2 linked regions of the Homo sapiens genome follow. The gene in region 1 interacts genetically with each later gene. Each region holds a gene or a part of one and is shown on either strand. Other genes may lie near its edges.

Region 1 (5,381 bases):
AAAAAACAATATAAGCAGAAGTCCACAAATATGTAAAGAACCTAGCATGTTGGAGAACAGTCCGCCATTTGGTTTATTAAAATATATGATAGAATGTTGCTTACACTTGTTTTGAAAGGCTGTAAATATAATACCATGGAGTATGATTTTATTTTGTAGGTATTAGGGAACCCTTAGAGTTTGTAAGCAGGGTAATATGGTCATCTGTAGTCTCTGGGAATAAAACTGATGGTATAGAAGATGGTGTAGACTAAAAGCAAAGAGACCAGTTAACTCAGGTGCCCAAGCAAGGAATAAGACAGCTGTATTATTAATATTATTTTAAGGGGCCTGAGAGATCATATAATAGTCTTTATCCTTTATGGAGCCCTAGGATGCCTCAGGAGCCACATAGAAAGGGCAAGGATGGGAGTATATATAATGCTTTGGGCCCCTAAACTCCTCCTTATGTTTTAAATTTTTCCCTTTTATTTTCAGTTGACATGTAATAATTATACATATTTATGGGATACAGAGTGATATTTCAATACATGTATACAATGTGTAATCAAATCAGAGTAATTAGCATATTCATCACCTCAAACATTTATCATTTCTTTGTGTTGTGAACATTCAAAATCTTGTAGCTTTTTGAAAATACGTGGTAAGTTATAGCTAGCCATATTCACCCTACAGTTCTGCAGAACACCAGAACTCATTCTTCCTATCCAGTTGTAATTTTTTATCCATTAACTTGCCTCTGCCCATCCTCCCCTTCTCTCTACCTTTCCCTACTTCTAATACCCACAATTCTACTCTCTACTTCCATGAGCTCAAAAATTTTTTTTGGCTCCTACATATGAATGAGAACATGCCATATTTATCTTTCTGTGCATGACTGATTTTATTTAACTTAATGTCCTCCAGATTTATCCATGTTGCTGCTAATGATAGAAATTCATTCTTTTTTATGGCTGAATAGTATTCCATGGTGTGTGTGTGTGTGTGTGTGTGTGTGTGTGTGTAAAAAACACTTTTAAAATCCATTATTCTCTTGATGGACATTTCTCTTGATTATCTATCCATAGATATTATGAATGGTGCTGCCGTAAACATGGGGGTACAGATAAGTTTTTAACATAATGAGTTTTTTTCCTTTGGAGAAATACCCAGCAGTGGGATTGCTAGATTGTATGGTAGTTCTGTTTTTAGTTTTTTGAGAAACCTCCATACTGTTTTCTATAGTGTATAAAAGTTCTCTTTTCTCTTCATCCTCAACAGCATTTATTGACTTTTGTCTTTTTAATAGACATTTTAACTGGGGTGAAATAATATGTCGTTGTGGTTTTTATTTACATTTACCTGAAGATTAGTGATGTTGAGCATTTTTTCATATACTTGGCCATTCGCATGTCTTTTGAGAAATGTCAATTCTGTTCCTTGCCTACTTTTTAATTGAATTATTTTTGGTTTTGCTGTTGAGTTGTTTGAGTTCCTCGTATGTTCTGGATATTAGTTCCTCATCAGATGAATGAAACTAGATCCCTATCTCATCATATACAAAAATCAACTTAAAGTAGATTAAAGACTTAAGCATAAGACCCTAAACTATAAAACTACTAGAAGAAAACATAGGGGAAATGTTTCAGGACATGAACCTGGGCGAAGACTTTATGGCAAAGACTTCAAAGCACAGGCAACAGAAAAGAAAGTAGACAAATGGGACTGTATTAAACTAAAAGCTTCTGCACAGCAAAGGAAACAACACAGTGAAGAGACAACTTGCACAATGGGAGAAAATATTTGCAAACTCCTACTTAAACTAAAGAACCTCTGATTTTATCTGATATATACATTGGCCTTCTGAATATGTTTTGCTTGTTATATATACATATTCCATATATAAATATATATATTTGCATGTGTGTGTATGTATACTATGGCTAAAAAGAAGTTGGAAAACCACTTAGTAGCCTAACATTTTTCTAAGAATTTCTCAGATGTGTAATCATACAGCCCCTTCCAGAGTGCATGGGCGCTCATCATCACAAAAGAAAGTCAGTTCCATTGTTGATAAGTTTCCAGTTGATTACAGAGTTCTCCTGGACTGTAAATTAAGGAGTCTTATTAGTCTTGTACCCAGTAAACATTATGTCATTAACCTTACATTTCTATCCACAGAAATTTCCAGTTACAGTGTTTTCCTTTGTGGCTGGAAAGAGTTTAAATATGTGTATGCTAGTTTACCATATAGAATCAAAGGGTGGATGGAGTCACAACTCTGAATTTTTCAAGAAAAAGTCTTAAGTATTAAGCAAAAAACAACCCCATTTAAAAAATGGACAAAAGACATGAGCAGATATTTCTCAAAACATACTAGAGGCTAGCAAACTAATGAAAAAATGCACATCACTAATTATTGGAGAAATGCAAATCAAAACCACAATAAGATACCATCTCACAACAGTCACAGGGCTATTATTAAAAAGTCAAAAAACAACAGATGCTGATGAGGCTGTGGAGAAAAAGGAATTGCTTATACACTGTTCGTGGGAATGTAAATTCAGCCACTGTGGAAAGCAGTTTAGAGATTTTTCAAAGAACTTAAAACAGAACTACCATTAGACCCAGCAAACCCATTAATGGGTTTATATCCAAAAGGAAACAAATCTTTCTACCAAAAATCATGCACTTGCATATTCATTGCAGCACTATTCACAATAGCAAAGATATCAACCTAGGTACATGTTAGTGGTGGATTGGATAAAGAAAATGTAGTATATATACAGTATGGAATACTATGCAGTCATAAAAAGAAATGAAATCATGTCCTTTGCAGCAACATGGATGGAGCTGGAAGTCATTACCTAAGTGAATTAATGCAGGAACAGAAAACTAAATACTGTATATTCTCATTTATAAGTTTATAAGCTAAACATTGGGCACTCATGGACATAAATATACTGAGGACTTACTAGAAGAGGAGGGAAGGAGGGGGCAGGGGTTGAAAAACTATTAGGTAGTATGCTTAGTACTTGGGTGACGGGATTGTTTGTACCCCAAACCTCGGCATTATGCAATATACCCAGGTAACAAACCCGCACATATACATCCTCAAGCTAAAATAAAAGTTTAAAATGTTAGTTGAAGAATTGTGTAATGGGCTGGGTCCAGTGGCTTACACCTGTAATCTCAGCACTTTGGGAGACTGAATTGGGTGGATCGATTGAGGTCACGAGTTTCAGACCAGCCTGGCCAAAATGGTGAAACCCCATCTCTACTAAAAATACAAAAATTAGCTGGGTGTGGTGGTGGGTGTCTGTAATCCCAGCTATTTGTGAAGCTGAGGTGTGAGAATCACCTGAACCTGGGAGGTGGAGATTGCTGTAACTGAGATCATGCCACTGCATTCCAGCCTGGGTAATCTGGGTGATGGAAAGAGCCCTGTCTCCAAAAAAAAAAAAAAAAAAAAAAAAGAGAATCTAATGGATGAAAAATTATAATAAATATGTCTAAATACTCCTTTTAGAATATACGGCTAATAGGCTGGGTGCAGTGGCTCACGCCTGTAATCCCAGCACTTTGGGAGGCTGAGGCGGGCGGATCACGAGGTCAAGATATCAAGACCATCCTGGCCAACCAACGTGGTGAAACCCCGTCTCTACTAAAAATACAAAAATTAGCTGGGCATAGTGGCGCACGCCTGTAGTCCCAGCTGCTCGGGAGGCTGAGGCAGGAGAATGGCTTGAACCCGGGAGGCGGAGGTTGCAGTGAGCCGAGATAATGCCACTGCACTCCAGCCCAGGGGACAGAGCGAGACTCCGTCTCAAAAAAAAAAAGAAAAAAAAAAGAATATACATCTAATAATGGGAAGATGTTTGCTTTCTGATTCCAAGGATTTGCGGTTTTAAATTGACTCTCGTTTAGCCAGCCTCAAAGTATTTAGGCTAGATTTTTTAAAAAGTTTGCATGGTACAGAGATTCTGCTTTAAACTGTTGTCAGTGCTATTACTTTACAGATAACTTTGTCTTGCTTTTTATGTCTCACCAGCTACATTATTGAGCAGGGGGTGTGTTATTTGGTTTTATGTGAAGCTGCCTTCCCTAAGAAGTTGGCTTTTGCCTACCTAGAAGATTTGCACTCAGAATTTGATGAACAGCATGGAAAGAAGGTGCCCACTGTGTCCCGACCCTATTCCTTTATTGAATTTGGTAAGTTTTTGCCCCTCACTTCTCTCTATCAAGGGAGCAAACAATATGGAGAAGCTATTTGTTACACTGATATAATATTTATACATTTTTTCTGATGTTTACTTGCTGAAGTTTTAGCTTCTGCATCCTTTTCCATTCCACTTCTTTTTGTCTTTTTGAGTGACTAAGGCTTTGTTCTGAAAAGTAATTTTCTCTAGTCTTTTGATCTTTCCCCCATAGAAATTGTTGCCTTTTGCCCTTTCTGTTATTTGGTTTGATTCTTCTTTAGAGTCACATGTGACAGGAACTGTGCCTAAAGATCTACTTGATTGGCATATAATGGCTGAGTTCTTCTTTACCCCAGTCCACAGACTCACACTCACAATAAGGCTCATTTTATGGAGATCAGAATTGGGAAATCAGAAAGAATGATGTTTTGTTTCTTTTAGTAGAATAAGATCCTCTAATTAAAAAAACAAAACATAACAAAGAAATAGAAGATACCTGGTACTCATGGTATTGGGGTATAATATTTACTACATTCAGGAATAGTGAGCATAGGTGTCTGTATTTGTGCAAGAATTATAGAAAGACTAATTACTAATCAGACCTGGTAAAGTATCTGATGGTAAGGGATCAAAGGAAATGTCCTAAGTACAGTAAGTACAGGGAGTGAGAACAAGTAGGATCAGGCTATATCGCTGAAATTTTTAGTTAAAAGAGAAATTGGTTTTACTGGCTTAGAATTTTTGAAGTGTTTCAAGTTTGCTAGATAAATGGGTCATCTTGCTTTGGAAAAACACTCTAGTGTTTCATAACTATATACTCTCCAAGTGCTGCTTTATATAATGTCCAGTTTTTCAAATTTTATTTTTATAGACAGTAATACTCCCATAAACCTCCCTCAAAAATAAGACAAATGTATCAGGGTCATACAGGAAACAGATGGCACACCCAAATTAGCTTAAGGGATTATATACAAAGATATGACTAGGCTGTAGGAGAATTACAAGGTACAGTAACCTCTGACCAGTAGCATACTGGTTGTTACCATCCCTAGGCCTGAATGTATAAGGGGGAGGAGCAGTTTCTGAAACTGAAAAGGAGAAAATTTCTAGAGAAGGCCAACTTGAGAGGAGCGTAACTTTTGGTAGAGGGATACTTCCAGAAGAAGGTTATTTCCTTCTCTGAAAGAAGCCAGGGGAATAAAT
Region 2 (2,901 bases), on another chromosome or scaffold:
AACATTTGTTTTACTATTACAATATAGTAGGCATACCATAAATGGTATTTCCCCCCTTACTAAAGAAGTAACAAAAGTCATATATCCAAGAAAAGAAACTACATCTGTGGACTGCCTGTAAAAGTGGCCTTTTTGCTTACAAGTCACTTTTCCCTCTGTAATAGCTTAGGAGATCTGAGGAGGATGAAGAGAAAGAAGAGGATATTGAAGTTCCAAAGGCCATGGGGGATATTTTTGAGTCGCTTGCTGGTGCCATTTACATGGATAGTGGGATGTCACTGGAGACAGTCTGGCAGGTGTACTATCCCATGATGCGGCCACTAATAGGTATTGTTGGCTCCCTTTAGAAAGAAAAAAACCCACAAAATTAAAAACAACTTCAGAGATATTATTCATATTATTCTTTCATTTTGATTGCAGAAAAGTTTTCTGCAAATGTACCCCGTTCCCCTGTGCGAGAATTGCTTGAAATGGAACCAGAAACTGCCAAATTTAGGTAAGCAAAAAATGTACATGGAAAAAACATTAACTTAAAAACATCAAAGGGGAAAAGTTCACAAAGATATTGTAAACTAATGATTCTGAAAAATATTTACACTGTGGTGTGCTGTTGTCAGATTTCTGTTTGTAATCTGATTGACTTCTCTTTTTTCCTTCTGTTTTTATGAAATAATGCTGTAATAAAGACTAGACGGCAGCCCTGTCTGTCGGGGGTATGCAATTGCAGTAAGTCGTAACGCGTGTTTCCTTTGTGTGGTGTCAGCTTATACATGGGACTCCTGGCCTGAGAGTGCACACTAAATGCTGATTGACAATGATAATAAATACTTCTGACTTCTAATTCAAGCTGTTTGGATTTTTTACAGCCCGGCTGAGAGAACTTACGACGGGAAGGTCAGAGTCACTGTGGAAGTAGTAGGAAAGGGGAAATTTAAAGGTGTTGGTCGAAGTTACAGGATTGCCAAATCTGCAGCAGCAAGAAGAGCCCTCCGAAGCCTCAAAGCTAATCAACCTCAGGTTCCCAATAGCTGAAACCGCTTTTTAAAATTCAAAACAAGAAACAAAACAAAAAAAATTAAGGGGAAAATTATTTAAATCGGAAAGGAAGACTTAAAGTTGTTAGTGAGTGGAATGAATTGAAGGCAGAATTTAAAGTTTGGTTGATAACAGGATAGATAACAGAATAAAACATTTAACATATGTATAAAATTTTGGAACTAATTGTAGTTTTAGTTTTTTGCGCAAACACAATCTTATCTTCTTTCCTCACTTCTGCTTTGTTTAAATCACAAGAGTGCTTTAATGATGACATTTAGCAAGTGCTCAAAATAATTGACAGGTTTTGTTTTTTTTTTTTTGAGTTTATGTCAGCTTTGCTTAGTGTTAGAAGGCCATGGAGCTTAAACCTCCAGCAGTCCCTAGGATGATGTAGATTCTTCTCCATCTCTCCGTGTGTGCAGTAGTGCCAGTCCTGCAGTAGTTGATAAGCTGAATAGAAAGATAAGGTTTTCGAGAGGAGAAGTGCGCCAATGTTGTCTTTTCTTTCCACGTTATACTGTGTAAGGTGATGTTCCCGGTCGCTGTTGCACCTGATAGTAAGGGACAGATTTTTAATGAACATTGGCTGGCATGTTGGTGAATCACATTTTAGTTTTCTGATGCCACATAGTCTTGCATAAAAAAGGGTTCTTGCCTTAAAAGTGAAACCTTCATGGATAGTCTTTAATCTCTGATCTTTTTGGAACAAACTGTTTTACATTCCTTTCATTTTATTATGCATTAGACGTTGAGACAGCGTGATACTTACAACTCACTAGTATAGTTGTAACTTATTACAGGATCATACTAAAATTTCTGTCATATGTATACTGAAGACATTTTAAAAACCAGAATATGTAGTCTACGGATATTTTTTATCATAAAAATGATCTTTGGCTAAACACCCCATTTTACTAAAGTCCTCCTGCCAGGTAGTTCCCACTGATGGAAATGTTTATGGCAAATAATTTTGCCTTCTAGGCTGTTGCTCTAACAAAATAAACCTTAGACATATCACACCTAAAATATGCTGCAGATTTTATAATTGATTGGTTACTTATTTAAGAAGCAAAACACAGCACCTTTACCCTTAGTCTCCTCACATAAATTTCTTACTATACTTTTCATAATGTTGCATGCATATTTCACCTACCAAAGCTGTGCTGTTAATGCCGTGAAAGTTTAACGTTTGCGATAAACTGCCGTAATTTTGATACATCTGTGATTTAGGTCATTAATTTAGATAAACTAGCTCATTATTTCCATCTTTGGAAAAGGAAAAAAAAAAAAACTTCTTTAGGCATTTGCCTAAGTTTCTTTAATTAGACTTGTAGGCACTCTTCACTTAAATACCTCAGTTCTTCTTTTCTTTTGCATGCATTTTTCCCCTGTTTGGTGCTATGTTTATGTATTATGCTTGAAATTTTAATTTTTTTTTTTTTGCACTGTAACTATAATACCTCTTAATTTACCTTTTTAAAAGCTGTGGGTCAGTCTTGCACTCCCATCAACATACCAGTAGAGGTTTGCTGCAATTTGCCCCGTTAATTATGCTTGAAGTTTAAGAAAGCTGAGCAGAGGTGTCTCATATTTCCCAGCACATGATTCTGAACTTGATGCTTCGTGGAATGCTGCATTTATATGTAAGTGACATTTGAATACTGTCCTTCCTGCTTTATCTGCATCATCCACCCACAGAGAAATGCCTCTGTGCGAGTGCACCGACAGAAAACTGTCAGCTCTGCTTTCTAAGGAACCCTGAGTGAGGGGGGTATTAAGCTTCTCCAGTGTTTTTTGTTGTCTCCAATCTTAAACTTAAATTGAGATCTAAATTATTAAACGAGTTTTTGAGCAAATTAGGTG

The links. A genetic interaction does not mean that the proteins touch.
Region 2: changes in SEC22B (region 1) and DICER1 together harm fitness less than expected from each alone (positive genetic interaction), as found in Homo sapiens cells (one large-scale study listed by BioGRID).

The regions. Positions count from the first base shown.
Region 1 is NC_000001.11:120,162,020-120,167,400, reverse strand, and holds part of SEC22B (vesicle-trafficking protein SEC22b), read left to right. Parts: intron 1-4,030; coding exon 4,031-4,191; intron 4,192-5,381. UniProt on the Homo sapiens protein: SNARE involved in targeting and fusion of ER-derived transport vesicles with the Golgi complex as well as Golgi-derived retrograde transport vesicles with the ER.
Region 2 is NC_000014.9:95,088,629-95,091,529, reverse strand, and holds part of DICER1 (endoribonuclease Dicer), read left to right. Parts: intron 1-164; coding exon 165-327; intron 328-420; coding exon 421-496; intron 497-866; coding exon 867-1,032; 3' UTR 1,033-2,901. UniProt on the Homo sapiens protein: Double-stranded RNA (dsRNA) endoribonuclease playing a central role in short dsRNA-mediated post-transcriptional gene silencing.